7 linked regions of the Homo sapiens genome follow. The protein of the gene in region 7 interacts with the protein of the main gene of each other region in a pairwise test. Each region holds a gene or a part of one and is shown on either strand. Other genes may lie near its edges.

What was found.
Region 1: the proteins of KLHL20 (region 7) and HR interact in a two-hybrid assay, tested with the Homo sapiens proteins (one large-scale study listed by BioGRID).
Region 2: the proteins of KLHL20 (region 7) and SLC13A5 interact in a two-hybrid assay, tested with the Homo sapiens proteins (one large-scale study listed by BioGRID).
Region 3: the proteins of KLHL20 (region 7) and CIMIP1 interact in a two-hybrid assay, tested with the Homo sapiens proteins (one large-scale study listed by BioGRID).
Region 4: the proteins of KLHL20 (region 7) and PRKAG1 interact in a two-hybrid assay, tested with the Homo sapiens proteins (one large-scale study listed by BioGRID).
Region 5: the proteins of KLHL20 (region 7) and NUP160 interact in a two-hybrid assay, tested with the Homo sapiens proteins (one large-scale study listed by BioGRID).
Region 6: the proteins of KLHL20 (region 7) and EPAS1 interact in a two-hybrid assay, tested with the Homo sapiens proteins (one study listed by BioGRID).

What each region holds. Positions count from the first base shown.
Region 1 is NC_000008.11:22,121,011-22,125,423, forward strand, and holds part of HR (lysine-specific demethylase hairless), read right to left. Parts: coding exon 4,301-4,413; intron 2,804-4,300; coding exon 2,639-2,803; intron 1,870-2,638; coding exon 1,780-1,869; intron 1,599-1,779; coding exon 1,483-1,598; intron 685-1,482; coding exon 603-684; intron 219-602; coding exon 55-218; intron 1-54. UniProt on the Homo sapiens protein: Histone demethylase that specifically demethylates both mono- and dimethylated 'Lys-9' of histone H3. May act as a transcription regulator controlling hair biology (via targeting of collagens), neural activity, and cell cycle.
Region 2 is NC_000017.11:6,703,303-6,707,715, reverse strand, and holds part of SLC13A5 (Na(+)/citrate cotransporter), read left to right. Parts: intron 1-559; coding exon 560-688; intron 689-937; coding exon 938-1,074; intron 1,075-3,659; coding exon 3,660-3,838; intron 3,839-4,413. UniProt on the Homo sapiens protein: High-affinity sodium/citrate cotransporter that mediates the entry of citrate into cells, which is a critical participant of biochemical pathways.
Region 3 is NC_000020.11:58,157,163-58,161,575, forward strand, and holds the end of CIMIP1 (ciliary microtubule inner protein 1), read left to right. Parts: intron 1-2,228; exon of another isoform or gene 2,229-2,269; intron 2,270-3,498; coding exon 3,499-3,660; 3' UTR 3,661-3,988; downstream 3,989-4,413.
Region 4 is NC_000012.12:49,004,935-49,009,347, forward strand, and holds part of PRKAG1 (5'-AMP-activated protein kinase subunit gamma-1), read right to left. Parts: exon of another isoform or gene 4,375-4,413; intron 3,666-4,374; exon of another isoform or gene 3,492-3,665; intron 919-3,491; coding exon 809-918; intron 659-808; exon of another isoform or gene 610-658; coding exon 528-609; intron 458-527; coding exon of another isoform or gene 431-457; coding exon 372-430; intron 232-371; coding exon 186-231; intron 85-185; coding exon 30-84; intron 1-29. UniProt on the Homo sapiens protein: AMP/ATP-binding subunit of AMP-activated protein kinase (AMPK), an energy sensor protein kinase that plays a key role in regulating cellular energy metabolism.
Region 5 is NC_000011.10:47,781,988-47,786,400, reverse strand, and holds part of NUP160 (nuclear pore complex protein Nup160), read left to right. Parts: intron 1-1,337; coding exon 1,338-1,479; intron 1,480-3,202; coding exon 3,203-3,328; intron 3,329-4,413. UniProt on the Homo sapiens protein: Functions as a component of the nuclear pore complex (NPC). Involved in poly(A)+ RNA transport.
Region 6 is NC_000002.12:46,359,455-46,363,867, forward strand, and holds part of EPAS1 (endothelial PAS domain-containing protein 1), read left to right. Parts: intron 1-1,183; coding exon 1,184-1,302; intron 1,303-1,430; coding exon 1,431-1,636; intron 1,637-4,413.
Region 7 is NC_000001.11:173,734,928-173,739,340, forward strand, and holds part of KLHL20 (kelch-like protein 20), read left to right. Parts: intron 1-4,413. UniProt on the Homo sapiens protein: Substrate-specific adapter of a BCR (BTB-CUL3-RBX1) E3 ubiquitin-protein ligase complex involved in interferon response and anterograde Golgi to endosome transport.

The sequences.
Region 1 (4,413 bases), on a different chromosome or scaffold from region 7:
AGGCCCAGCCTCTGGTCCCCTGGCTCCTAGCCCTCCCTCCGTGCCCTCACTCACACTGGGCAGGGCCGGAGTGACGGGGGCGAAGGCCATGTGTATTCGCTCATGGCCCAAGCAGAGTTTGACCGCGGTAGAAGCCAGCAGTTCGCAGAGAGAAGGACAAGGCAGGGGCCCTCGGCCAGCACGGTCCTCTGCTGGGGTCTCAGCGGAATCGGGGGTCTCTGTCAGGGAGGAAGATGGTGGGGGGCTTCGCGTTTGGTCCCTCCTCTTCCCCTCGAGGCCCTCTTGCCCATGCTGCTCTTCCCTCTCTTCCTGGCTGAGCCCACTCTCCCCAGCCAGCATCCCCCACCTCAGCTCTGCTCTGGGTCTCCCCGCTCTACTGCTTTTCCTGCAGGCAGCTCCAGAGTCTCTAAAAAGAGGGGTTCAGAGGGGGGTCTGGCCAAAGAAGGTGTTTGGAGGCATGTCCTGAGGGGAGTAGTGGAGATTATTGGGGGTGGGGGGGAGTTGCTAAAGTCCCCGGAGACTTCCGCGACTGTCCCCTCCTGCCTCAAACTCTGGCCCAGCCTCCCTCTTGCACAGGCCGAGGGGCAAGAGGAGCCGCTCACCCTCTTTGATGCTCTTGGTCCTGTGGGTGTCGCCATTGCAGGAAGGTTGTGGAGTTGGGGGCGTTTTCTGTGTTGATTCCTTCTGTTAAACCCATCCACCACCCCCCCAATCCAACCAGAGATTTTAAAATGGCAGACACAATTCAACAGAACCCACAAGAATGAACAATGGACTCTTGTCAGTCCTAAAATCGTGTTTATAGGAGCAAAATGCCATAGGATATAACATTAGGTGGAAAAAAGTTGCTCATGGACTTCTACCTATGATAGGGTCTATAGTCTACTAAAATAGACAAATGGCTGGAAATAAATATGTCAAAACTAATGGTAGCATTAAGGTCATCGTCATTTTCTTCCTTATACTTGTCTGTATTTTCCAAATTTTCCACAATGGGTATATAACACAGTGTCTGGAACCCAAAATGCATTCAATGAACTATTTATTTTGAATGGATGACTTTTATAATAAGAACATGAACTTCAAAAAACTTTGCAGAATGCACATTGAGCGCCTGCTAGGTGTTAGGTGCCGGGATACTGAGAAGGCGGGCCAACGCTCCACCTGAAGGAACCATGGCCTGGGGACCTGGCCATACCAACAAGCACCTCTAGCATGATGTGGCAAGCGCTGAACAAGAATATGCACAGAGTAGGGTGGATATGCTCCAGGAAGGCAGGGGGTGAGGACCTCCAGGGCATGGAGGTGGGAGGGGCCAGCGCTGGAGATCATGCATGGCTCCTGATCCCCAAGGTGGGAATTAGCCTGATCCCACAGGCTTCTCTCTCTTCATCCCCACCAAGAAAAGGGGGGGCCAAACCCCTGCAAAGGTCAGCCATTTGCAGGCACGATACCCAACCGGTGACATGCCCTGGGTCTTACCTGCTGGCCTGCATCCCCGGGGGCCCATACCCGGGCATCAGCTTGGCAGGGGCAGTGCCCCCGGATATCAAACTTGACCCAGACCTGGTGCATTGCAGTGCTCAGCTCTGCCAAAGCTGGGGGTGGGGGTGGGCAGGAGAGGGAGGTTGGTGGTGAGTGTAGACCAACAGGCAGTCCCGGGCAGCTTGGCCTTGCCAAGCAGAAGGGCATGGCACTGGGGGGAGGGACAATCAGACGGGAAGCTGGTCTCCCTCAGGACCCAACCTCTGCACGCCCCACCCCTCCAAGATGGCTCACCCTGGCTGGAGACAAACTGGGTCAGCATCAGGGAACAGGCAGCGTGCCCGGCCTCCTGCGTGCACTCCTCCGCGGACTGCTCCTGAAAGCCTGTGGGGCAGGAAGGGAAAAGCTGCAGGTCCAGAAATCAAGGTAATCACAGGTTAAGGTCAGAGAAGGTCAGGACATGATACCTAAACCAGGGGACTCAATAGTCCACAAAACTCGTGCTTTCTGGGAAACCTGGGTCACATAGAGACACAGCATTCTTTGCTTGTAGAATGCTACAGACTTTAACGTGCTGAGAGGCTTTGCAGGTCCTTAGGCTAACCATGTGGAAGACAATGTTCTAAAACGTGTCTGACCCTGGAGCTCTTTCTGGTCATCCCTACTGGAACACAGGGAAATTTCAAGCTCTCCCGTGGCCAACTTGAGCCAAGGGAAAGAAAGCTGAGAACTATGAAAAGAACAGGATGAAATCAGAAGACCTGAGTCTAAGTCCTGGCTGCAACACGTTACTAACTGTGTGACCTTGGACGAGTCGCTTATCCTCTGAGTTTTTCTTATCTGGAAAACAAAAGCAGTAATACCCACTTCACAGTGTTACAGCAGGTTTTAAAAGGTGCCAGCTGAACAGAGTGGGAGACACCGAGTGGGCACACTCGCCTTTGTTTAAGGGTGGTCAAGGACGCAGGCATGGTCCTCTGATCTGCAGAGAGGGGAAGTCTGCTCTAAGGGCATTGAGCCATGGTGGCTGAGGCTGGGGCTGTGCAGTGGGTAGGGGGCTTTTTGGGGAGAGGCAGCCAACGAATGACCACAGGCTTGCAGCAGTCCCCCTGAGGGCTCCATCCCGCCCTCCCACCCCCAGCCCCTCTCCTACCTGCTTTCTCCCTGGCCCGCCCAGTGCCTGCCACACGACCACAGGCCACACACAGCCGGTGGCTGCAGCGGGGACATCGCCAGTGGGTGTTGAAGAGTCCATGGTGGCAACGGCTGCAGCAGCGTGGAATGCCTGGGCTGTCCTCTGTCACGGCTGGCCCTTGGCCTGCTGACCACGGAGAGAACAGGGTCAGAGGGTGAAGGCAACAGGCCCCAATGGAAGGCTTCACGTGGGAAGGATCCAAGGAGGGGCAGGAGAAGCAAGGAGCAGCTTCCATGGAGAGGGCCCCCCCAGGGAAGGGAGACAGGCCCCTCGACAGCTACCCCCTGCTTACTCCACAGCCCTGTCGAGAGCCTCCTTGTAGAAACTATCCTCTCCAGCAAAGCCTTCCAGGGACATTGGAGGCCTCAGCTCCACCATTCCTGCCCCACACCCAGCTCTGCCCCCAGGGACTTCCCCACTGGCCCTGAATTATTAATCCACACCACTTCTAGCACATTCTTTCCTCCACCTCCTTCCCTCCAAGCCCTAGGTGCTACCAGAAGTGGTAACCATGCTCAGGTGCCATTTCCTCCAGGAGACTTTGTTGTCGTTGTTTTGAGATAGGGTCTCACTCTGTCATCTAGGCTGGAGTACAGTGGTGTGATTACAGCTCACTGCAGCCTCCATCTCCTGGACTCAAGTGATCCTCCCACCTCGGCCTCCCAAAGTGCTGGGATTACAGGCATGAGCCACCGCGCCCAGCCAGGAGTGGGGTTTTCTAAGAACCAAGTATGAGACTAAGCCATTGTTGGTAGGTGGAAAAGGTGTCGCTGAGTACAATTCAACGAACGCCTTGCCTTTGGGTGCAGGGGCCTCAGAGGTGGTTAGGACTTGCCCCTGCCTCGCAGTGCACACATTCCAGGTAGGGAGATGGACCCATAAATACAGCGATGACTGTGGCACCACGAGGCGGGTGCTGGAGATGGAAAATGCCAGGGAAGGGTGAGGATGGGAATGCGGGAGAGCTTCCCAAGTGGGCCCCAGAGGATGAGTAAGTTTTCATTCACCAGGTAGAAAGGGAGGAGCAGGGCATTCCAGACACAGGGACAGCCAGTGCCAAGGCCCGAGGGGATGACAAGCTCCAGGGAGCCGGGAAGGGAAGGATGGATGGCGTGTGTGCTGGGAACCCAGGCTGGGAGTGGCAGGAGCTGACAGGGAGCCTGCTGAAGATGCACCAAGGGGCCTGGCCTGTCTGGGGCAAGAGGGAGCCCCGGGGGTCTCCACCCAAAGACTGACCAGCAGCCTTTGGTCATGAGGAACTCTCTGTGCTGCGGAAGGGCGACCGAAGGGAGCACCTGCAGCCAGAGGGGACCTTAGCCCAGGTCCTGTCAGCCCTCCAGGCCCGGGAGCTTCGCCTGACCCCCAAGCCCTCAGGAGCTCCCCCACCTCCCAGTGCCTTGCAGATACTTGGCACTCATTCTTGTTTTCCCAACAAGCCCAAAAACTCCCAGAGAACTGGGCTGTACCCAGTTTGACACCTTCCTGATGTCCCCACCCAGGCCAGGGGCTCTTCTGAGGTTGCCTTAGGTCTAGGAGCTGGCAGTGTGGGTGGGGTCAGGGGAGGGACACCTGGGGCTCCCCACACAGAGACCCCACGCAGACCCAGGAGGTCCTGTTCACCTTCCCGCTGGGCCCAAGCCAGGGCCTCCCGCTCCCTCCGCAGCAGGCGGCACAGTCGGTCCCCCAAACCACTGAGCAGGTGCTTGGCGAGGCCTGTGCTGAGCCGGCTGTCA
Region 2 (4,413 bases), on a different chromosome or scaffold from region 7:
TATTTGGCTTTCCATTGCTGAGTCACTTCTCTTAGAACAATGGCCTCCTAGGCGGCAAGAGCGACACTCCATCTCAAAAATAAAATAATAATAAAACCAAAAAAACCAGGTATTTTATTCTTCTTCTCCTTCTCCTCTTCCTCCTTTCTTTTCTTCCTTCTCCATCCCCCTTCCTCTCTTTCTTCTATCCCCTCCTCCTCCTTCTCCTCCTTCTCCTTCTTTCTCCTTTTCTTCCTTGTCCTATTCTTGATCTTTTCTTTTGAGAGGCAGCTAATCCAAGGTTTGAGAAGATGAAAGAACGTGCCTAGAACCACACAGCTGGGAAGGAGGGAGGCAGGGAGGAGGGGTGGGAATGGGGCAGGAGTCCTTTGCGAATAGATCCCTGGCCTGACCCGGGAAAGCTGTGCTGACCAGGGCTGGGGAACAAGATGACTTTGAGGGGAATCCCTCTGAGATCAGCACTGTGTCTTGACAATCCATGCCAGCCGCCGTCCGGAGTGTTCTGGGGGTGGGGAGAGGGAGGCGGCAACACGCTGAGGCCTCAGGACTGTCTCTTCAGTTTGTCAGGTGTGCCTACGTCATCATCCTCATGGCCATTTACTGGTGCACAGAAGTCATCCCTCTGGCTGTCACCTCTCTCATGCCTGTCTTGCTTTTCCCACTCTTCCAGATTCTGGACTCCAGGCAGGTGAGCAGACCCAAGGGATCCTGGTGACTTTCTGGTTCTCCCCTTCTCTCTTTCTCTAGTCCCCACTGTGAGTCGCACAGGCCTGGGGGTGACCGGAAAACCCTCATTTGTGGATTCTCCCTGGCAGGGAGACACCACTCGAGCCTGCATCCCCACTCCAAGCTGTCCCTGAAGTCAGCATCTGGGGACTGGGTGGCTCTAGTGTGTGGCAAGGGACAGTCCTGATGAGGCCTTCGTGCCACGCTCCAGGTGTGTGTCCAGTACATGAAGGACACCAACATGCTGTTCCTGGGCGGCCTCATCGTGGCCGTGGCTGTGGAGCGCTGGAACCTGCACAAGAGGATCGCCCTGCGCACGCTCCTCTGGGTGGGGGCCAAGCCTGCACGGTAATTACGCCTTCTCTCTCTTGCCACGTGGCTCTGCATGAGCCCCAGGGCTGGAAGGGGGTGGAGGATGGCACAGACCAGGCCATCCACTGGTGAGGGCTGGCCATGGGCTTACCTGGACTTGGCTGGGTGGGGTGCGTTATAGCTTTAGTGGGAGAGACCAGATGCATGCGTGGTGGTGGCACATGGTGAGCAGCAGTAAGTAAGGGTCCTCGAATCCAGAGGAGGTGGGTCAGCAAGAGTCCTTGCAGGCTTGGAAGGCTTTCTGGGGGAGGCAGCTAGCTGCAGGGTTCCACCGGGAACAAATTGGATAGAGGCTGGATCAAGCTGTGTCTGATAGGATAAGGGAAGCAGGCCAGAAGTGGCTCAACTACCCAGCTCATGGGGAAGCAGAAAGGTCCTCTCTCCAAGCTGGAGCATCTATTCCCACTGCAAAGAAGCTTCTTATCTTCCCCGATATCACTCAGTACCCCAGCTTCTCTCTCCATTTCCAGGATCTCTCCTGCCAATCTAGCTAGCCATTTCCAGCTAAGCCATGGAGTCAATATAATCATAATCATAACCATAATCAATCATGATCATAATGGGTATATTGAGTGTCTACAAGGCCCCAGGCATGATACCAGGAGCTTATGAATTGCCTCATTTAATTCTTACCACAACTCTGAGAGCTGAGTATTCTTACTGCCCACATTCTGTGGATGAGGGATTGGAGGCAGAGAGGGATAAAGTGATTTGCTCATGGACACACGGGGATTGGACCCAGCTTCTCTGATAAGGCCTGTGTCCTCTCTAATCAGAAACTCAGGGCATATCTTCCTTTTGAGACAATGTGTCCCCTCAATGATGGCACGTCCTTGGCCCAGCCATCAGGAGTCAGCTGCTGGTCAGTTTACGGTAAATTCCTCCTGAGGCGCCCCTGTGTCAGGGGCTGTGCTAGACCCTGAGCACACACAGACGCTAGCCTGCCCTGCAGGCAACCCATGCCCGGGGCTCCCTTGGTGCCTCAGATTCCCCTGAGCAGGGGACTTTGTGGCTCTCTGATCTGTTACACATCCTGGCATTGATTCCTTCCAGTAATTGCTTTAGCATCAAATCAAAAGCCATCATATTTTCTAGAAATGAGAGACCCCAGGAAAGTGGACCTCAGGGCCCTCAGAATTCTTCTGCTTGGCTCCCTTGAGTGGCCAGCTTGGGTGGGAGGCCACTCCAGTGGGTTTCATTCTGCAGCATGCTGGAGAGCTTCCACTTCCAAACCCAAGTTCACACATGCTTCTGTATCCTTCCTGCCACCTTGCTCCTCTGAGTATGGTCTCCGGTTGTCCAAGGCACTGCCTGTCCTGGGAGTCACCTGTATGTGAGGCACCCTTGGTGCCTTGAGATATCATGTAGAAGCCTTGGTTCTTCTCAGACAACTCCATTCATGCAAACTCTCCCCCTCCTCCTAGCCTGGGTCCCGGGCTTTGTTTTTTTTTGGGTCCATAATGTCTGCCTGTGTGGACAGCAGCTTGGGCCCTGGTGCAGAACAGCTCCTAGGTCCCTTCTTCAGGCTCCTACCCCTGCCCCTGCTCCTACCCCCAGGTGAATTAGGAGCCCTGAGGAGGAGCCTGGCTGCAGCGAGGCCCACAGACTGAGAGTAGCTGAGCTCCTTCTGTCCCTAGCCTTGGACAGCTGGGGCATGTAGAGCCACAGAGCAGAGTCAGGCCCTGCCCTGCTCACAGCCCAAGGAGAGAGCAGACATGGAAACAGGTGCTTTGAACCCAGCACAGCGATGATTAGAGTAGGGGGAAGGATTGAGAAGGGTCAGGCCAGCCCCACCTGGTGCACACACTGAGAGCGTGGTCCCAGAGGAGGGATGTTGTTTGAGCAGGCTCTGAAGGACCATGAGGAGTCTTCCTGATAGACAGCAGAGAAGGGAGCAGGGGTTACAAGCAAAGGGAGTGTTTCTTCTGAATACTGTTTGTGTGATAGCTCCACTGCAGCATGGAGGGGTCAAAGTGTATGTGCGGGGCGGAGGGGAGATGGCAGGGTTGGAGTGGCAGCCGGGAGAATAGTCACACTTTCCCAAGCTCCCTCCCCAGCTCACCCTACCCCTACTCTGCTTAGCCCTTCTGAACTTCTGAGAGGTGCAACAGAGTTTGGGGGTGGGTGGGAATTTCCTAGCCAGAAGTGGGAAGCTGGGGCTGCCTGCACATAGGGGTATTCCAGCACACCCTAGGGCAAGCTCATATTGAGTTGGCACCATCTGGATGCCTGGGCTTCCCCTGCTAGATGGTGGGGCAGGGGTGCTCCTTAGAACCACGACTGGATCTGAGGCCTCTTGGTAACCCCAGAAGCAAGCAGAGTAGACATCAGTCATGGGTGTGGGAGAGGCAGGAGGGAGAGAGGAATGGAGGAAGCAAAGAAGGGAAGGAGGGAGGGAGGGGAGGCTCTAAAACCGTCATCCCTATTCCAATATCTGATCTTGAATTGGCCTCAACACCTGTGCATCCCTGCAGGGGTGGACCCAGTCCCCAGTTGCTTCCCAGGGAGTACGGGGGTGGGGTGGGGATTCTCTGGCTTTCCTCCCTGCCCCTCCTCTGCAGGCTGATGCTGGGCTTCATGGGCGTCACAGCCCTCCTGTCCATGTGGATCAGTAACACGGCAACCACGGCCATGATGGTGCCCATCGTGGAGGCCATATTGCAGCAGATGGAAGCCACAAGCGCAGCCACCGAGGCCGGCCTGGAGCTGGTGGACAAGGGCAAGGCCAAGGAGCTGCCAGGTGAGCCCCTGGCCAGGGCACTGCCAGGCCACAACAGCAGCCTTCCCCTCCCTCTGCTGGCAAATGCTTTGGCCACCTCCTTCTCCCTGTCTGCTTCCCGGAGCCCTCCTTTAAACACGCATAGAGAAAAAAAAATAGAAAATACTGTTGTCCTAAGTTTTAGGAGGGGATTATTGCACACAACTTAGATCCTTTAATAGAGCTTTGAACAAAGTCTCACCCTCAGTTCCCATCAGTTGCAGAAATCAGTGTGTTCACCTGATTATTCATTTGGGCATCTTTCGAGCACTTAGGGATGCCCCTCACTCCTTGCTACTCCTGCTCATCCTCAAGGAGGCCTTTTCTGACCTCCTCGAGCAGCTCAAATCCTTCCACTCTCTGCTCCCATAGGTCTGGGGCTTGGCGTCCCATGCTTGCTTCCCTGCTAGGTGCGAAGCTCAGGGAAGACGAGTCAGCATCTACCTTGCCGTCTGCCGTGTTCCCTTACCATCCCCAGCCCAGTGCAGTAGAGTCAGGGTCTGTGGCTGACGGCCTGATTGCCAGACCCTGGGCAAGGTCCTGGGGCTTACAGAGAG
Region 3 (4,413 bases), on a different chromosome or scaffold from region 7:
CATCCCTTGACCTGTAAGAGTAACCACCCCACCAGCTCAAGCTATTATTATCTCTTAGCCGCTCACCGTGGTGACTGCTTTACATTGGGTGTCTCATCTTACTTCCACTGCAGCCCCGGATATTATCATCCTCAAACCCATTTTGCAGATGGGAAAGCTGAAGCTTAAAAAAGCTGAATTCCTTTCTCTGGCCACACAGCAAGTGTGTCTGATTCCAGAGCCCTGCTTTTAAATGTTACCCTCAAATATTCCTCAAATGTATGTTCATGTATACGTATATACACACTTGTGCACATACACACATACTTTTTAGGTATATGTTTACAAATCAAACTACACAGGCTGCTTTGTAATCTCATTTTTCCACCTAACAACATACCCTGGACATCTTTCCATGCAGTTTAAAAAAGCACTCTAAATAGCTATTATATTAATGGCTGTGTTTTTCTCCACTGTGTGGATCTGTCATAATTTATTTAACCATCCCCCTATTCCTGGCCATTGAGGTTGTATCCGGCATGAGATTTGGGAGAATAATCGTGCAAGGAACACCTTGTAGACACAGAAATTTGCTCTGAGTCCGTAATTTTCTTGATATTAGTGCCTACAAAGGTGATTGTTCAGATGAAATGCACACATTTAGGGAGCTCGCTCTCCTGTGGCCTAGAACACTGGGCTGGCCGGAGAATAGAGGAAGAGAGACTGGGATGTAGGTGGGACATTTTTCCAGAGCTGGGCTTTAATTCTGCCAACTCCCTGCCTCCACCTGCCTCCATCCCAAGAATACGGTGGCATGGGATCTGCTTAGTGTCTATAATGTCCCTCAGCCACATGCTGTCCCCACAGATCCCTTGCCGGCCCATGAGACTGGACTTTCCCTCTGCCACCAGGGCCCCTGGGCCTGCTCTGCACAACCACAGTTATTCTCTTTCCAAAGAAAGCGCCCCCACCTAGATACCAGAGAGGTGCCCCTCCTGGAGGATGGGAAACAGGGAGGAACCATCCAGGCACCAGAACATACCAAAACATGGTTATCTCCTGTGAGAGACTCCTGTCTAGGAGCAAGGGCCAGCTCTTAAAGCCACACTCACCAGACAGAGCCTGTGGGGTGGCAGGGGTAAGGACAAGAACCTTGATTCAGGCGAGAAAGGTCCCCAGCCTCTGCTTCCCTCCAAACTTCCTTTCTTGCCCAAGAAATGGTAATGGTGGCCGGGCCAGTGGCTCAAGCCTGTGATCCCAGCACTTTGGGAGGCCGAGACAGGCGGATCACGAGGTCAGGAGATTGAGACCATCCTGGCTAACACGGTGAAACCCCATCTCTACTAAAACTACAAAAAATTAGCCAGGCATGGCGGTGGGTGCCTGTAGTCCCAGCTACTCAGGAGGCTGAGGCAGGAGAACGACGTGAACCCGGGAGGTGCAGCTTGCAGTGAGCCGAGATCGTGCCACTGCACTCCAGCCTGGGCGACAGAGTAAGACTCCGTCTCAAAAAAAAAAAAATGGTAGCTGGTTTCCTTCTTCCACCTTTCTTCCACCTTCCTATCCTCTCATTGGTGACCAAAGCCTTTAAAAATATATTTATTTTTAATAGGTAACCTTGATACCTAAAAGGGCATCTGATGAGATGCCTCCCTCCCTCTGGACCCCTGGAGCCACTGTCACCCATTTGTCACGCACTCTTGCATAGACAAGGACATCCATGGGCCTCTGGCCTCATTTTCTTATTACACAGCTTGTACCATACTTTGAATAGTTTTGTGCACCTCTTTTCTCTTAGAAGTTTGTCTCATCCTTCTAAACCATTGCATGGCACACCACACATTGCATGGATGGGCCATAGTGAATGAGCCTCCGTGGGTGGATATGCAGCTTATGTCCAATTGTTTGCTATTACAAACAGCTCCGCAAGGCATCCCTTGCACCATCATGGGTGTGTACCTGTGTAGCTATCAGGATATTTTAGAATGAATGCCTCAGAGTAGATTGTTAGGTCAAAGAGTGTTTGCATCTGCACTTTCTTCTTTTTTTTTTTTTTTTTTTTTGCATCTGCACTTTCAAAAGATAATTGCCAGGCTGGGCATGATGGCTCATGCCTATAATCCCAACACTTTGGGAAGCCAAGGCAGGTGGATCAACTGAGGTCAGGAGTTCGAGACCAGCCTGACCAACATGGTGAAACCCTGTCTCTACTAAAAATACAAAAATTAGCTGGGCATGATGGCACTTACCTGTAATCCCAGCCACTCAGGAGCTGAGGCAAGAGAATCACTTGAACCCAGGAGGCAGACGTTTCAGTGAACTGAGATTGCGCCATTGCACCCTAGCCTGGATGACAGAGCAAGACTCCGTCTAAAAAAAGGAAAAAAAAAAAAAGATAATTGCCATATCGCCCTTGCTCCTATAATGCCCTTGTTAGTGGTGGTGTTTTCATCTTTTTGCCCCTCTGCTGGGTGAAACATGATGTCTCACAGTGGATTTCAACTGCATTTCTTTTACAAGTTAGATAAAGACTTGGAAGTTAGTCTGTGTGCTCCCAAAGGCCTGGCTGGACAAACAGCTTTGAGAGCTGCTTCCCTTCTGAACAATTTTACTTGTAGCTGGTTCAAGGAAGCTTTGGCCCCTCTGTCATTTGTTGATGACCCGCCCTACATGTAGCCTTGCAGGAGACTAATTTTAGGAGTTCATCAAGAACATATGCTAAGGGGTTTCGTCCACCAGCAGCAGCCAGCCCACTCGGGACCATCCCCTCCTGCCACCGCCTCACCGGCAGGTTCCATTAGTAAAAGTGAACTCATAACCCCAAGCATATTAAACCTCTTTATCTCAGTTCTTCTGCTAGAACAAATGTCCCGCACTGTTGCCTTTGTTCAAATCCCCTTATGCAGAACAGATTATTTCAAAAGAAGGGGAAAACCTGCCTAAACATTTACCCTCATTTTCCAAAAATGTCAAATCTGTCCAAGGAGTTGACAAATGAAGTTGTGTTTTTTCATTCCAGATAGAAGCCCATTTTCCTTTTGGTTTTTAAAATTAAATTCAGTTGCTTTTCATTCCTGTGATCTCCACGGTTTGGAGTGTGTGTGTATATACAGATGCATTTCGTAGAGGCTTCTCATCGAAACAGGGTGACGTGCACCTGCCGCAATGCCATCTGACAACAGTGCCATATATTTTATAAAAGGCAGTGAAAACTGTAGCACTTGATATTTCTGCATCTTTTTTTCTTTTTGCTTTCTTACCAAATAAAAATTATTTTGCTGGAAGTCATGAATTAAATATGTTAGGCATTACACGATAAAGAAACATGTTTGATGTTCCTCACTTCCCGGAAAGATGAGAGCCTCTGAGTCCAGCTGATTGGAATGTGCTTGTTTTCAGTACACATCAGGGAGGCTGGCTTTTCTTTCTGTCTTTTCCACCCCTGCCTCACATGCCGATGCTGGGTGCCTCGTGTCTCTGTGGCCGAAGGTCACTAAATCCCCTGTATTTCCATTCCAGGTCTTTCCATCCCCCCCAGTCCCACAGACCACCCAGGGCTTCATCGGCTGGAGATCTGCAGTGCCAGGCCTGAACAAGTGCCTAGAGCTCGACGATGCGATCAGAAGCTGCAAAGGTGCTTTTGCACGAGAGCTGTGCTGGCCCAAGCAGGGCGTGCACTGAATCCAGACGGAGTTCTGCCCAGGGGTGCTGCATATCGGTCACCAGGCACCCAGGGCCATGCCAGGGAAAGGAAGAGCTCCCCTGAATCCCGAGGACACAGTCCCCTGCGTACTTGCTCATGGGATGTTGCAAAGAACACAAAGTGTGCCTTAGACATTCTCAAGTCATCAGCGTCACCCTTCCAGAATGTTCACGTCCACACCCATTCTTGGCTAATGTAATGAATAAGGCTTCTCTCATTTGTTTTTGATACCTTGGGAATTTCTATGCAGGGCTTTAAAAAAAAATAAGTGATTCAATTTTAAAAATATTTGTCTAGGTCCTTCAATGTAGCTTTTCATTGCACCTATCATCATCCTTATTTATAACGAACTTGTTGATCAGGTGTTTCTCTATCCAGATATCCCTGGGCCTGTTTTTCAGGAAGAAGAATACACTTAGAGAATCCCTTGGCTCTCCTTGCTCAAGATATTTGCAATAAGTTAACAGCTTTAAAGGCAGAAATGAGCCCAAGATTTGCCACTGGGCGTAGATTCACAGGAGAAAAATGGGTTTCCCAATCCCTCTAAGAAAACCACTGCTGCTGACCTGTCCCAGCCACCCCCAGTCCAGCACAGAAAGCTCCAGGCTGCCCAAATGGGTCATTTTCCTTCCCCGAGTACATCAACCCCACAGTTACCATTTTCTTTCTAAACACTGTCTAGCTGTCTCTCTTCTCCTACTCCTACAAATGGGGGCTGGGGGCATGGAGTG
Region 4 (4,413 bases), on a different chromosome or scaffold from region 7:
TTTTGGACAGATGGGTAACTGGAACTCACCTGGCATTAGGAGAAATGCAGACAAGCGGTTTAAAGGAGTCCTGGAGATACACCTCTGAAGGGAAAAGGGATGGGTCACAAAATACCACCATGGAAAAGTGTTTCCCAGAAACCCGCCATCCCTTTATCCTTTTATAACCCCAATTCTCTACATACCTCTCCAAGTTTCTATCTTGTGTTCTTCTAGCTCATAGATCTGTACCTGAAAGCAGAAGCAACAGAATTTGAGACCTGATCTCTCTGCTTCCTTAAGCCCTCGTGGCTTGCTTGGAGAAAAAGAAATGAGAATGAGGGATTTAGGGCAGGGAAAGTGATTTTGGTCATTGGGTTAAGGTTCCTTACCAAGGCTGATTTATAGTAGCGGTGCAGGATATTGATGAAATCAGTGATGGTCAGCATGCCTAGAGGACAAGACAGAGCCCTCAGCACTGCCTGAAGCTTGTCTCCCTGCCCAGCACAAGATGCCAATAATATTGTGTTCCAGAAACTTTTGCTTACCCACAAAACTTTGCTTCTTACTATCCCATAAAGGGGCAGCTCGTACACCGTTAGTCACCAAAGCAAAAAAAGCTTTCTTCACCTGTAGCCAAGACAGTAATAATCATAAAGGCAAATCCACAGGGGCAGGACTGTAAAAAAAGAACAGTGTTTGGGCATGTTGGGTAAAACATGAGACTAACTTCACAGAAGGATAAGGATATTACCCTTAGGATGAGATAGGATGAGAGGTATTAAACCACAGGCTCCAAAGGGGGAAGGGAAAAGAGGATTTCACCCACCTGCAGGGACGTATCAAATACAACCAATTTGGAGCTTGTGGGAATCAGGTCATAGCAGCGATGAGACTTCATGAAGGAAGTATACACGCTATTGTTGGATTCTGGGGTCTCTGCATAGGGTGGGATAGTTAGTAGCTTCCTTCCACATAAAAACTCCCAATCAAAAGAGACAGAAAACAAAATAGTGTTCTAGTATCTCAAATATTTAGAGCATTATTTTTTAATAAGACCCCTTATTTTATCTGTCTTGTTCCTATTGTTTCCACAAAACCTGGATAAACCTCTTAGAAACCATTTCATCCAACCCCTGTCTCCAGGTTAAGACTTTATCTATTGGTCCCTATAGGTAAAAGAAGTTGACTAAAACATAAAGCCTATAGTATCTCTCTTTAACATGTTATAGTCTAAAAATGTTTCTCATCTTTAATCCAAGCTTTCCCTTTCATATACTTAGCACATTTTCACTTTCCTCTTTTTTCAATGAAGTAAGCTTCTTAAAATTCTTCCAAGACTGTGCTGGGGATGGTGGCAAGCACCTGTAATCCCAGCTACTCAGGAAGTTGAGGCAGAGGATCACTTGAACCCAGGAGCTCGAGGCCAGCCTGGGCAACACAGCGAACCCCTGTCTCAATTAAAAAAAAAATTATTCTAAGACCTGCAAATGGGAAAGTCATGGTCCAAGTTGGGCCATTTCTCATTAACAATAAGTTGGAGCCCAGTGCTCAATCAACCTGGCTCAAAACACCCTGATAGTCCATTCTGGGATCACCCTGTAAATCAGAAATCATCCCACCTACTCTAGACAAATGGGAGATCCTGGCTAGTTTACCTTTTTCTATTCCTGTGATTTTAATTGCTTGCTCTAAACTAGGGAAGTAATCTCCCAAAATAATAGCTTGAATGTGCTACATACTATACTACGTGCACTTAAAAATATTACATTGAGGCTGGGCGTGGTGGCTCATGCCTGTAATCCCAGAACTTTGGGAGGCCAAGGTGGGAGGATCACCTGAGGTCGGGAGTTCAAGACCAGCCTGACCAACATGGATAAACCCTGTCTCTATTAAAAATACAAAATTAGCCGGGCATGGTGGCGCATGCCTGTAATCCCAGCTACTCGGGAGGCTGAGGCAGGAGAATTGCTTGAACCCGGGAGGCAGAGGTTGCGATGAGCCGAGATCGCAACATTGCACTCCAGCCTGGGCAACAAGAGTGAAACTCCGTGTCAAAAAAATAAATAAATAAATAAATAAATTACATTGGCTGGGCGTGGTGGCTCACACCTGTAACCCAGGACTTTGGGAGGCCAAGGTGGGTGGATCACCTGAGGTCAGAAGTTTGAGACCAGCCTGGCCAACATGGCGAAACCCCGTCTCTACTAAAAAAATATAAAAATTAGCCAGGCGTGGTGGCACGTGCCTGTAGTCCCAGCTACTCAGGGGGCTGAGGCAGGAGAATTGCTTGAACCCAGGAGGTGGAGGTTGCAGTGAGACGAGATTGTGCCTCTGCACTCCAGCCTGGGCGACAGAGTGAGACTCCGTCTCAAAAAAAAAAAAAAAAAATTACATAATTTAATCCTTACAACAAATGTGTAAGTAATGTCCTCATGTTTCAGATGAGAAAATAGGTGTAGTTAAATAAACTGCTCAAGGTCACACCATTAATAAGTGGCAAGAAAGACTCAAACAAACCCAGATCTGTTTCCAAACTTCATGCTCTTAAGTCTTTAATCAATTTGGTTTTTAATATTTATTTTTTTAACCAAAGTTATATAGACACACAGTTAAATCAGTCCAACAGTTTTACAAATTTTGTTAAGAAAAAATTGCACTCCTTGCAACCCACCTCCCTGTACTACCCTTCCCCAGAGATGAGAACATCTATCTACCTTAGTTGATTATTTTGGTACTTAATTCTATGTCCTTAAATAACATGCTTGTATTGCTAGTTTCCATTTTTTTTTTCATTTTGGGGCATTATTTATCATCTATCTACCAAAGAAGATGAGAATTTCTAGTTCTCTCTCCTACTAGGACTCCACCACAAACACGTACTTCCCATTCTCCTCATTATTCCAGGAGCTAAACCATAATGTTGGTTATATCCGTATTTCAATCTTTTTTTTTTTTTTTTTTGAGAGGGAGTCTTGCTCTGTCACCCAGGCTGAAGTGCAGTGGCACGATCTCAGGTTACTACAACCTCAGCCTTCCAGGTTCAAGCGATTCTCCTGCCTCAGCCTCGCAAGTAGCTGGGGTTACAGGTGCCCGCCACCATGCCCGGCTAAATTTTGTATTTTAGTAGAGACAGGGTTTCACCACATTGGCCAGGCTGATCTCGAACTCCTGACCTCATGTGATCTGCCCGCTTTGGCCTCCCAAAGTGCTGAGATTACAGGAATGAGCCACTGCACCCGGCCAGTATTTAAATCATTTTGACTGAATATTTATTATTCAGAGATAAGCCAAATAGTAAACTCTGATTTTTTTTTCTTCCTTCACAACTTTGTTTTACCTGGAGTTAATGTCTTGTCCTTTTGTTTAATTTTCTATGTATAATTCTTATAACTAATCCAACCCCCAAATGCTTCACCAACTATTTAAATCTCCTTTTAAGAGGTTCAAAAGCATTAGACAGTCTATCAAAATTTAAACTACCCAAAGAAATCTCCCTGGAGCCTTCTGACCTGCTCAAATCTGGGCTGGTTTGTCTGGTGTGCACTGCTGTCATCCTGGGATCTTTCTTCATCACCATCCTGGGTACCCCTTTCACGTCTGTCCTCTACTGGTGCTCCTATATCGCGTTTTTATCTTTTTTGATTACTCCCTTATTTTGGTGGAACACATCTTCCAGTAGCTTCCTGAGAAAGGGTGCATGGGAGGTATGTGTTTTTGAGACCTTGCAGCCTGTAGATATCTTTATTCTACCCTCATCCTTGGATTTATAATTCGGCTGAATAGAGAATCTGCAGGAAAGCTTGGAATGTGTTTTCCTGCAGAATGTTGAAGGCATTGCTCCATTGCCTGCTAGCTGCTGGTGTTGTTGAGAGTCCAAGGCAATTCTGACTTTTTGTATGTGACTTTTTTTTCCTCTCTCTGAAAACTCATAGGATCTCTGTTTCCAGTGTTCTGAAATCTCAGGATGACTGTGCTTTGGGTGGGTCACTTTCATCCATTGTGCTGAATATTCGATGGGTCCTTTCAATATGAAAACTAATGTCCTCAAGTTCCAATAAATGTTCTTGAATTAGTTCCTCAATTATTTCCTTCCCTCTGTGTTGCCATTTTTCTTTTTCTATGACTCCTATTTAGATACTGGACCTCCTAGACTGATCCTTTAAATGTTTGTTTGTTTTGTGGGTTGTTGGAATCTTTCCTCTCCTTTTTTTTTTTTTTTTTTAAAGAGACAGGCTTTCATTCTGTTACCCAGGCTGGAGTACAATGGCGAGATCATGGCTCACCTGCAGCCTTGACCTTCTGGGCTCAAGCAATTCTCCTATCTCAGCCTCCTGAGTAGCTGGGACTACAAGTGTATGCCACTATGCCTGGCTAATTTTTATTTTTTTGTAGAGACAGGGTCTTGCTGTGTTGCTGAGCTGGTCTTGAACT
Region 5 (4,413 bases), on a different chromosome or scaffold from region 7:
CTGTCTTTCTCTGACTAAATTGTCCTACATAGATCATTTCACTTTTTTCTTTCTTTTTGGCTAAGTTTTTATAGGGGCTGGAAAGTTTATAATTAAGGTGACATCATGTCATTTATTGTCCAAACTAGGATGTCTTTGCCTATGAAATGTCTCCTTCTCCATATCCCCCTCCTCAAAGACTTACTGTTTCATATCAGGAAAGGGTACTCTTACAGGCAAAAATCTGTATTTACTTGTTTCGGAGTGTTATCCTCCTTTTTTCCCCCATTTCTTCCACTGAGCAGTCACTGCATGGTTTCATCACAGTGTCCTCTTATATCTTGTCTCCAGCTGCTGTTCAGCAGTCTGTCACCCATCAGCCCCCATCATCCACTATACCTTCTTCAGATCTCCTCTGGTTCGTATACTTCCCCAGTGCACCCACTTTGTGTCCACGTAAATATACTTCAGCTTCTTCAGAAACCTTCTCTAACATTCCTAACCCTCAGTAAACTTCCCTTTCTGAACTGCATTTGCACTTGGTATTATACAGCTTAGCACTTTAGAGTGATAGCACTTTAGAATTTGGAAGTTCTCTGACATTAGTTTTCAACCCCTAAATTAGCACATCAGAATAACTTATTAAAATACAGATTATGAGAAATCACCCTAGTCTTCTAAGTTAGAACTTCTGCATGATTCTAATGCTTGATCAGGTTTGAGAACCAGTGTTCTGAACCAGTTTCTTGTTTTAGAAATGCAGAAACAAAGGAGTTAAATGAATTATGCATTAATAGCCAAACAAATAACGTTCATTTACTAAATATGTTTGTTTACTAAATACTAAATACGTTAGTGGGAGAGGAATATACGAACCCAAGACATCTAGTTTCTAGTGCTATCCCCATAAGTCACATTAGCCCAAATAATATTTGTTCCCATTTAGCTATATTATTGATTCAGTTGTTAATTTCTAAAGTTTTCCTTGTAAGGCTGGGCATGGTGACTCCTGCCTGTAATCCCAACACTTAGGGAGGACAAGGTCAGAGGATCACTTTAGCTCTGGAGTTTAATACCAGCGTGGACAACATAGCAAGTCCTTGTCTCTACAAAACATAAACAAAATTAGCTGGGCATAGTGGTGCATGCCTGTATTCCCAGCTATTTAGGAAGCTGAAATGGGAGAATCTGGGGCTGAGGCTGCAGTGAGCTGAGATCACACCACTCCACTCTAGCCTGGGTGACAGAGCAAGACCCTGTCTGAAAAAAAAGTTTTCCTTGTAAATACATGCTTTGAATGGTACTCTAAATAGCTATTAAGAATCTGAAACTCATTAGTCATTTTTGTTTTTTTCAAGTGCTACAGATGAAGCATGGCGACTATTATCCACTTACCTGGAGAGGTACAAAGTCCAGAATAACTTGTATCACCACTGTGTAATCAACAAGCTCTTGTCTCATGGAGTGCCTCTGCCTAATTGGCTTATAAACAGTTACAAGGTAAACGGATTATAACTTGTACAGAGTAAGAACCCACTCTTTATCATTCTGGATAACTTCATGAGATGATTAAAAATATGGACTGATTGCAGTGGCTCATACCTGTCATGCCCGCACATTGGTAGGCCAACAGGGGAGGATGGCTTGAGCCCAGGAGTTTGAGACCAGCTTGGGCAACACAGGGAGACCCCATCTCTATTTAAATTTAAAAATATATAAAGAAAAAGAAAAAGATGGGGTGATAACTTATGGGAACATATTGACTTACGTACTTTGGGAAGCTTTTCATCATAGCTAAAACCATAAGAACAATTCAAATTCATTTCCACAGTACTACTGTGTATTTAGATTTGAAGTTTCATAGGTTAGTAATTAGGTTAATGACTCCTATTATATTCACTGAACAATGAGTTTATATTTAGAACAATGAGCATATGCATGACACAGGATTTACTCTTCATACCTCAAAAAAGTCACAGGAGTCGGTGGAGTACTTTTCAAATAATATAACACTATGGCTGGTCTGAGTGCCGTGTTGTTTACAACTAATTGAGCACAACCAGTTTCCGATTGGTTCCTTCTCCACTCCCACTGTTTCACCTATTAAAAATCAAAAACGGGTTCTTAGACTGTCTGCATCAGAATTATTCAGATGGCAGTCTTCTTCAAAATACAGATTCCTCATCCTAGACTTACAGAATCAGATTATCTCAGGCTAGGAGCCAGAAATCTACATTTTAAGAAGCTCCTAATTTGATTTTGATGCATGCTAAAGTTTGAGAACTTCTGCATCTGAACCACCGTTAGTAGGATAAGGAAAGAGAAAATCTAAAGCTTAAAATCAGGAAAGTTTTTTTTGGTTTTTTTTGTTTTGTTTTGTTTTGTTTTTTTTGTTTTTGTTTTTGTTTTTTTTTTAAGGTAGAAAGGAGGCCGGGCACGGTGACTCACGCCTGTAAACCCAGCGCTTTGGGAGGCCAAGGCAGGCAGATCACCTGAGGTCAGGAATTCGAGACCAGCCTGGCCAACATGGTGAAACCCCATCTCCACTAAAAATACAAAAATTATCTGGATGTGATGGTGCGTGCCTGTAATCTCAGCTACTCTGGAGGCAGAGGTTACAGTGATCTGAGGTTGCACCACTGCCCCCAAGCCTGGGCGACAGAGCAAGACTCTGTCTCAAAAAAAATAAATAAATAGGAAAGTAGGGAAGCCAGCTAAGATGGTAAAGGTAAGATTGTGATCAAATGGGAATATAGAAAGCATGCTTAATTAATAGAGCTCTTCCAAATAGAGACTTCAGATTTAAAGCTGGTGATTCTTTGAACTTCTTTTGCATTTGTCATTCATATATTTCTTATTATGTGAATATATTGTCACTTTAGTGTTCAGGAAAAGTTTGTTGACTTTACAACTGTGGAAACTGAAGTGGAGAGAAGTTAAAATATGTCTTAGGTCATAAAACAGGGGAAGAAGGCTATTTAACAGATAAGGGCCTCCCAAACTGCCTAGAGGTAACGGCTCTTAGGGATTTAACTTTTTTTTTTTCCTAACTCCCCAGATTTGTTATCAGCTCTTATCCTAAGATACAGATGAGTAAACCAAGCCACTGGTTTAATTATATTGAGAAATACAAATGTTAGGGAATCAGCCACTCAACATTCTTTGGTCAGTACTCAAGTAGGAGGGAAATAGGTACATATTCTTAATCACTGACTTTTCACAGAAGGTTGATGCTGCTGAATTGCTTCGTTTATACTTAAACTATGACCTTTTAGAAGAAGCTGTGGATTTGGTGTCAGAATATGTGGATGCTGTATTGGGAAAAGGACATCAATACTTCGGAATTGAGGTAGGCATATACAAATGGTCCCCAATTTACAATGGTTTGACTTACGATTTTTCAACTTTACAGTGGTTTGAAAGTGATGAACATTTATGAGAAACCATACTTTAAAATACTGATGGCCGGGCACAGTGACTCATGCCTATAATCCCAGCACTTTGGGAGGCCGAGGCAGACAGATCACCTGAGGTCAGGAGTTCGAAACCAGTTTGGCCAACATGGCAAAGCCCCGTCTCTACTAAAAATACAGAAATTAGCCAGATGCAGTGGCACGTACCTGTAATCCCAGCTACTCAGGAGGCTGAGGCAGGAGAATCGCTTGAACCTGGGAGGCAGAGGTTGCAGTGAGCCGAGATCATGCCACTGCACTCCAGCCTGGGCAACAGAGCGAGACTCCATCTCAAAAATAAATAAATAAATAAATAATAAATAAATAAAATACTCATACAACCGTTCAGTTTTTCAGTTGCAGTACAGTATTCAATAAATTACACAAGATATTCAACAGTGTATTATAAAGTAGGCTTTCTGTTAGATGATTTTGCCCAACTTTATAGGTTAACGTTAAGTGTCCTGAGCATGGTTAAGTAGGCTAGGCTAAGCCGTGATGTTCATTAGGTTAGATGTATTATATGTATTTTCAACCTATGATATTTTCAACTGATAGTGGGTTTATTGGAAAACAAACCCACCATAAGTTGAGGAACATCGGTATAGGCGCATATATATATATATATATATATATATATATATATATATATATATATATATATATTTTTTTTTTTTTTTAACTGAGTTTTGCTCTGTTGCCCAAGCTGGAGTGCAGTGATGCAGCCTCCACTTACTCCCTCACTGCAGCCTCCGCCTCCCGGGTTCAAGTGATTCTCCTGCCTCAGCCTCCTGAGTAGCTGGGATTACAGGCACCTGCCACCACATCCAGCTAATTTTTTAATATTTTTGGTAGAGATGGGGCTTCACCATGTTGGCCAGGCTGGTCTCGGAACTCCTAACCTCAAGTGATCCACCCACCTCGGCCTCCCAAAGTGCTGGGATTACCCATGTGAGCCACCATGCCCGGCCTAGGCATTTCT
Region 6 (4,413 bases), on a different chromosome or scaffold from region 7:
CCACCTCTGAAAATTAAAATGGCAAGAATCATAATTTGGTATGGGAGAAATGGTTTTATAATCGTGATGAAGGAATGTTCTCTCTTTTTTAAAAAAATTCACTATTCAGTCTGTTACTGAGTGGGGTCCCCTAAGGATGTTGAAGTTTTGTTCAAGGGTGCCACAGTTCCTTTGACACATAACTCTTCAGGAATATGTCAGTCAAGATCCTCTGGAAGTTTAAGTGCAGGGGCTGGTGACTGTTCCTGGAGGAAGGAGTGTGACTATTCGAAACAAGGCTCTAGATTGTTCTATGATGCTGGGTAGGGGGCAGGATTATATCTTTGAAAGTAGGTACCAGAGATGGTGGTGTAGGCAGGATTTAGACACAGACAAGTGGGATTCAGCTGGCACTCTTCATTACTTTGTTTTACAAAAAGTGGAAAATGGTTCTGAATCGGGAGGCTGTTTGGCAACTATAAGGAAGTAAGCTATATTGCTGGTCTTGGTGATTTAATTTTTGCTGAGAGAGAGGATATGATCCAGGTTGAGTTAATCCATAAAGTGGACTTGCTCACCAAGTCCACTGTAAGGAGATTCGTACCAGAGTTCTCTCTAGAGCCTTGATACATATGTCACTTCAGGGACAAAGCTAATGGCATGGTATCCTGAACACAGCTATTGCAGTTTGCAAATGGGGTACAGGAGGGGTTAAATTCCTCCTGAGAGACAGGTTATAAAGGAAAGACGGGAGTGTCGGAGAGACATTTCTAACCTGTGAGGAAGGCTTACACCCTTGGAGTAACTGTGGCCTCACTCAGACTGTCCCTTGGAATTTCTGCGAGAAGACCTGGGCCTGCCCCAGGAAAGGGTGGCTGAGTTAGTGGCTGATAGGCAGTCGTTGTGTCGCTGCTCTGAAGGCACCACTGACCATGTTCCAGATGCAATGGGAAATCAAATGATGGAGCAGCTCCTCCCTTGTGGGAGTTTATGCTCCAGTTGAGGAGATAAGCTTGAGAGTGGGAACCATTAGTTCACAGGCCATGATGGAGCTCAGTGTTGATGGCAGACCACAGGTGCTAAGAGAGCAGATATTTGGAAAATATAAACAATAGGCTGCCAAGAAAAACTGCAGCTGGGCCCCTCTCATGAATATCCATATAAAACTGACTTCAGCTGGTTCTTCCCATCCTTCCACATCCAGGCTCTGGTTTTGGGAAAAAAAGCAAAGACATGTCCACAGAGCGGGACTTCTTCATGAGGATGAAGTGCACGGTCACCAACAGAGGCCGTACTGTCAACCTCAAGTCAGCCACCTGGAAGGTAGGGCAACATCAGGCCTGGGTTGGAGTCCCAGGTGTAGGGTAACGGCGGTGCAGGGGATGCCTAAGGCCCTACCCCCACCCCCAGCACTCTCGGCTCCATGTCTGACCCTTCCACGCCTGTCTCAGGTCTTGCACTGCACGGGCCAGGTGAAAGTCTACAACAACTGCCCTCCTCACAATAGTCTGTGTGGCTACAAGGAGCCCCTGCTGTCCTGCCTCATCATCATGTGTGAACCAATCCAGCACCCATCCCACATGGACATCCCCCTGGATAGCAAGACCTTCCTGAGCCGCCACAGCATGGACATGAAGTTCACCTACTGTGATGACAGGTAGGGGGCCATGGGTGTGTATGCTGTGGGCAGAGATGGGTCTTACCTGTGTGTGTGGGGAGTTGTGCCTGTATTAAAGGTGTGGAACTGAACATAGACGTGGTATTGCCGGGTGCATGTTCGTGGACCTGTGCCACTGTTTCATTGCATCAGTGCCCCTCAGAGGTTCCCGGTACTGTATTTGGTGGTCTCCCATTGACAGAGCCTCAGGGTCCATCTGCAGAGCTTTCCTGGTGTGCAACTCTTCTCATCATTGTGGTGTGAACATATTTCTCCATACGTGTATCAGGCTCCTGAGGAAATTCTCAAGGCAGTCTTCTGCCCCAGGAGAAAGAGTCTAGAGACTTCCATCTGTACTCCTGCTTCAGAGGCCAGTAAGGAGCATCAGCTTCTGCCCTGGAGACTGACCCTCTTCCATTACTGACTGAGCCTTTCCCTCCGCCTTGTTCCTTCCTGCATGCAACTCCATTCCGGCCAGTGTCCAGCCATTTTGAAGAAGATGAAGGTAGCTGAGCCAGATGCTAACCCCCCAGTGCCAGGCCCAGTGTCTCTTAGGAGACACAGTAGTGATTAAGAGCATGGGCTTCAGGACTAGATGGCTTAGGTTCAAATTTAGTAATAAATGTTCAGTGTTAGCTCTTATTATCACCTTTATTAGAGTTGTTGAAAGAGTGCCTAAGACTGCTTAGGCATGTCATGCCATCTCGGGTTCTTAGCTCATTTAGAAGATTGAAGCAGGTGGGGAAGAGACTGGGGTTGTCATAGGAGGGAGTATTTAGATACCCTACAGCTCCTAACTCCCCCACCAGCCCTGCCTCTGGGACTGTGGAGCCTGATGATGGGAGGTAGGAGGAGGAAGATGGGGAGAACAGATGCCCGGAGCAATGGCCGGCCCCAGGGAGGGAAGGAAATGCAGAAGACTGGGCCCAGGGTAGGCCTGGCTTGAGTAAGCGCCACTGGGGCTTGCTGAGCAGCACCCCCCGCATGCGCCCTTCCTGGCAGAGATCTCCCTGCCTGACCTCAGCTTTCTGCAGCATCTAGAGCCGCCATGTGTCCCAGGGTGACAGTTCCTGTGGCAGCTCTTTGCCACCCCCAACTCTTTGCCACTCTTCTCTCATCTTCTAGGGTTTCTCCTCAGGAAACCCTCAGATCTCAGTTTCCCCTTCTCCAAAATAGAGATAACACTTTCTAACCTGTTTCATGGGGTCACTGTAAAATGAGATAATGGCTGTGCAAGCACTTTGAGAAGTCCAGACACCACAACACATGTGAGGCTTCTTGTTATTGCTTATATCTTACTTCCTGTCCTTGGCCTCCTCCAAAGCAAAATCTTCCACTAAACTCAAGGAGCTGAAACCACTTCTGAAGGCAGTTAGTGGCTGGGGGGCAGGAAGAGGAAGAATCTGACCCCCAGATCAGCAAGAATCTGCCTTGTCTTCCTCAGCTAGCAGGAAACCATGGAACCCCAGGAAAAAAAGCTCCTGCTCAGCCTCCCCTAGGCCTACCCACTTTTCTCTTATCAGCTGGACATCCCAAGGGCATCTGGTTTCTTCATGGGAGGGACCCTCCTCTCCAGGATGGGGTTTCTCTCCTCTGATTCCAGACCGGCCTGGTGTTGGTTGGTCGCCCCTTCTTAGAGTTGGCCACCACTTGTGGCACAATTTCAGAACTTTTGTAAAAGTATCCTTGAGTCATTCCTGTCCTTCAGTTCTGACCACAGTAGGGCCAGGATTCACAGCCTTTGGAGCTAGTGGGTAGTTATATAAGTAGAAAGAAATGCTCTAACCTCATAGGGAGAAAATGTCATGCATGAAGCCTTCCGTCCTGGAACTTCGACACAGTCACCATTTATTGTAATTGTTAGTGGTGGTGGTGGTGGTGGTGGTAGTGGTGGTGGTGGTGGTGGTGGTGGTGGTGGTGGTGGTGGTGATAATGATGGTGGTTCAAGAAGAAGATTGCACTTTTAGTGACAGGCACTGCAGGAATCCATGTTATAGGTAAGGTTATTTATCAGATGCAGTCTTTGTATTCAGGTGAACATTCTGGGCAGAAGACACAGCTTTGTGTACCTCAGTAGTCTTGTGAGATAACATGGACAATCCCACTGCATAGCCCCTGTGTCACTGGCTTTGAGGTGAAGTGGCTCAAGCCGACGTAGCCATATAGCCTGGGAGCATATATAGTGCTGGGGATGATGAAAGTCAGATACGTGCTTCACCCTGGTGAATGAAGCACATCCGTAACATAACTCCATAAGCACTGGGAAAACCCTACTGTCCTAGAAAATAACTTGGCATCCCTACATAATAGAAAAGAGATTTTTTTTAAGCTTAAGATTTTGATCCTTGTTACAGTGAGAAGAAATCCTCTGGAAGGGGTAATTCAGCCTTATCCTTTATTCATTATCTTGGTTTAAATGAGTTTCAGGTAATTTTCTGAAGGTACTAACCTTTGGACAAAAGAAGAGGGGGAGAAACACAAGGAATTGGATGTCTAAATGTGGCTGGAGAGGAAATGTACATAGAAAGGGGAAAGATGCTGTGCTGACTTCTTAGTTTGGCTCAGGGCTGGTAGCCAGAGTAGCTTCTGGCTTAAAGGAAGTATCAAGCCTCGTGATTTAGGGCTTTGTGACTCATAATGTAGAGGGTGATATTGCTTATAAGTTCTGCGAGACACACTGCATTTTCAGCAAAATCTTGCCTTTCAAGAAACCTAATTACATGGCCCCAAGTCTGAATTCAGTGGTGCTGGAGAGCTGCATGTAGAAGCATTTAAAG
Region 7 (4,413 bases):
ACAAAGAAGCAGTCCTGGATGATTTAAGAGTGTATTACAGAGAAATTTAACTTTGGTGCTGGAACAACTTGTGCAAAATCCCAAGACATTAAAAAGCATCACTAGTTTGAAGACCTGAAAAAAACCCAGTGAGACCCAGAGACCAAGGGGGGTAGAGGATGTTACATAGTGATTACACAGAAAGAAGAGGGCTAAATCACACTGAGGTTGATAGACTATGTTAAGAATTTGAGATTGGCCTGGTGCAGTGGCACATGCCTGTGATCCCAGCACTTTGGGAGGCTGAGGCGGGCAGATTGCATGAGCTCAGGAGTTCAACACTAGCCTGGGCAACATGGCGAAACCCTGTCTCTACAAAAAATACAAAAATTAGTCGGGCATGGTGGCGTGCACCCTTAGTCCCAGCTACTTAGGAGGCTGAGGTGGGAGGATGGCTTGAGCCCAGGAGGTAGAGGTTGCAGTGAGCCAAGATCGTGCCACTGCACTCCAGCCTGGGTGAGAGAGCCAGACCAGACCCTATCTCAAAAAAAAAAAAAAAGAATTTGAGATTGATCCTAAGAGTGCTAGAAAACCATTAAAGGGTTTTAAGCAAAGACAAAACATGGTCTGTTTTACAACTTTTTAAAAAATCATATTTTTATTTATTTTGCAGTAAAGTGGTCAGCTCAGGACCATAGTTTTTTTCCCCCTAATAGTTTTTGGAGAACAGGTGGTGTTTGATTATATGAATAAGTTCTTCATTGATGATTTCTGAGATTTTGGTGCATCCACCACCCGAGCAGTGTACACCGTACCCAATGTGTAGTCTTTTATCTCTCACCCACCTCCCACACTTCCCCCTGAATCCCCAAAGTCCATTGTGTCATTCTTACGACTTTGCATCCTCATAGCTTAGCTCCCACTTATAAGTGAGAACATATCATTTTTGGTTTTCCATTCCTGAGTTACATCACTTAGAATAATGGTCTCCAACCAACTCCATCCAGATTGCTGCAAATGCCATTCTATCTTTTTTTTTTTTTTTTTTTTTTGAGATGGAGTCTCACTTGCTCTGTTGCCCACGCTGGAGTGCAACGGGGCTCAATCTCAGCTCACTGCAACTTCTGCCTCCTGGGTTCAAGTGATTCTCCTGCCTCAGCCTCCCAAGTAGCTGGGACTATAGGTACATGCCACCATGTCCAGCTAATTTTTGTATTTTTATTAGAGATGGGGTTTCACCATGTTGGCCAGGCTGGTCTCAAATTCCTGACCTCAAGTGATCTGTGATCTGCTTGCCTCAGCCTACCAAAGTGCTGGGATTACAGGCGTGAGTCACTGTTCCTGGCCAATATATTGTTCCTTTTTATGGCTGAGTAGTATTCTGTGGTATATATACATACCACATTTTCTTTATCCACTTGTTGATTGATGGGCATTTGGGCTGGTTCCGTATTTTTGCAGTTGTGAATTGTGCTGCTATAAACATGCACATGCAAGTGTCTTTTTCATATAATGACTTCTTTTCCTCTGGGCAGTAACCAGTAGTGGGATTGCTGGAACAAATGGTAGATATACTTTTGGTTCTTTAAGAAATCTCCATATACTGTTTTCCATAGTGGTTGCACTAGTCCACATTCCCACCAGCAATGTAAAAGTGTTCCCTTTTCACCACATCCATGCCAACATCTTTTTTTTTTTTTTAATTTTGAAACAGAGTCTCACTGTGTTGCCCAGGCTGGAGTGCAGTGGCATGATCTCGGCTCACTGCAACCTCCGCCTCCCGGGTTCAAGCGATTCTCCCACCTCAGCCTCCCGAGTAGCTGGGATTACAGGGATTTGCCACCACACCAAGCTAATTTTTGTATTTTTAGTAGAGATGGGGTTTCACCATGTTGGCCAGGCTGGTCTCAAACTCCTGACCTCAGGTGATCTGCCCGCCTTGGCCTCCCAAAGTGCTGGGATTACAGGCATGAGCCACCGCACCCGGCCTATGTTTTTATTTTTTAAATTATGGCCATTCTTGCAGGAGTAAAGTGGTATCACATTGTGGTTTTGATTTGCTGATCATTAGTGATGTTGAGCATTTTTTCATATGTTTGTTGGCCATTTGTATATCTTCTTTTGAGAATTGTCTATTGGTCTTTAGCCCACTTTTTGATGGAATTATTTGTTTTTTTCCTTGGTGATTTGTTTGAATTCCTTGTAGATTCTGGATATTAGTCTGTGGTTGGATCTGTAGTTTGCAAACATTCTCTCCCACTCCGTGGGTTGTCTATTTACTCTGCTGATTATTTCTTTTGCTGTGCAGAAGCTTTTTAGTTTAAGTTCCATCTATTTATCTTTGTTTTTGTTGCATTTGCTTTTGGTTCTTGATCATGAACTCTTTGCCTGAGCCAATGTCTAGAAGGGTTTCTCCAATGTTATCTTCTAGAATTTTTATGGTTTCATGTCTTAGATTTAAGTCTTTGATCCATCTTGAGTTGGTTTTTGTATAAGGTGAGAGATGAAGATTCAGTTTCATTCTTCTACATGTGGCTTGCCAATTATCCCAGCACTGTTTGCTGAATAGGGTGTCCTTTCCCCACATTATGTTTTTGTTTGCTTTGTCAAAGATCAGTTGGCTTTAACTATTTGGCTTTATTTCTGGGTTCTCTATTCTTTCCATTGGTCTATGTACCTATTTTTATGCCAGTATCATGCTGTTTTGGTGACTATAGCCTTGTAAAATAGTTTGAAATTAGGTAATGTGATGCCTCCAGATTTGCTTAGCCTTCCTTTGGGTATGTGGGCTCATTTTTGGTTCCATATGAATTTTAGGATTGTTTTTTCTAGTTCTGTGAAGAATGATGGTGGTATTTTTATGGGAATTGCATTGAATTTATAGATTCTCTTGGCTGTATAGACATTTTCACAATATTGATTCTACCCATTCATGAGCATGAGATGTGTTTCCATTTGTTTGTGTCATCTATGATTTCTTTCAGCAGTGTTTTGGTAGAGACCTTTCACTTCTGTAGTGAGATATATTCCTAAGTATTTTATCTTTTTTTTTTTTTTTGCAGCTATTATAAAAGGGGTTGGGTTCTTGATTTGATTCTCAGCTTGGTTGCTCTTCGTGTATAGCAGTACTACTGGTTTGTGTACATTAATTTTGTACCCTGAAACTTTACTGAATTCATTTACCAGTTCTTGGAGCTTTTTGGATGAGTCTTTAGGGTTTTCTAGGTATACAATCATATTGTCGGCAAACAGCGACAGTTTGACTTTCTCTTTAACAATTTGGATGCTCTTTATTTCATTTGTTTGTTTGTTATAAGAGATGAGGTCTTGCTTTGTCCCCCAGCTTTGACCTCCAGGGCACAAGCGATCCTCCCGCCTCAGCCCCCCACGTAGCTGGGACTACAGATGCGCACCATCATGCCCGGCTAATTTTTGTATTTTTCTGTAGAGACACGGTTTTGCCATGTTGCCCAGGCTGGTCTCAAACTCCTGAGCTCAGGCAATCCACCTGCCTCGGTGTCCCAAAGTGTTGGGAGTACAGGCATGAGCCACTGCACCTGGTCCTGGATGCCCTTTATTTCTTTCTCTTGTGTGATTGCTTTGCCTAGGACTTAAAGTACTATGTTGAATAGAAGTGGTGAAAGTGGGCATCTTTGTCTTGTTCCAGTTCTCAGGGGGAATGCTTTCAACTTTTCCTGTTCAGTATAATATTGGCTGCAGGTTTGTCATAGATGGTTTTTATTACCTTAAGGTATGTCCCTTCTATGCCGATTTTCCTGAGCATTTCAATCATAAATTGATGCTAGATTTTGTCAAATGCTTTTTATGTATCTAATGAAATGATCATATGATTTTTATTTTTAATTCTGTTTATGTGGTATATCACAATTATTGACTTGCATATGTTAAACTATCCCTTCATCCCTGGTATGAAACCCACTTGATCATGGTGGATTATCTTTTTGATATGCTGTTGGATTCAGTTAGCTATTATTTTGTGGAGGATTTTTGCATCTATGTTCATCAGGGATACTGGTCTGTAGTTTTGTTTCTTTGTTATGTTCTTTCCTGGTTTTGGTATTAGGGTGATACTGGCTTCATAGAATGATTTAGGGAGGATTCCCTCTTTCTCTGTCTTTTGGAATAGTGTCCATAGGATTGGTACCAAGTCTTGTTTTTTTTTGGAGATGGAGTCTTGCTCTGTCGACCAGGCTGGAGTACAGTGGCACGATCTCAGCTCACTGCAACCTCCACCTCCCACATTCAAGCGATTCTCCTGCCTTAGCCTCCCGAGTATCTGGAACTACAGGCACCCACCACCACGCCCAGCTAATTTTTTGTATGTTAGTGGAGATGGGGCTTCACCGTTTTGCCCAGACTGGTCTTGAACTCCTGAGCTCAGGCAATCTGCCACCTCAGCCTCCCAAAGTGCTG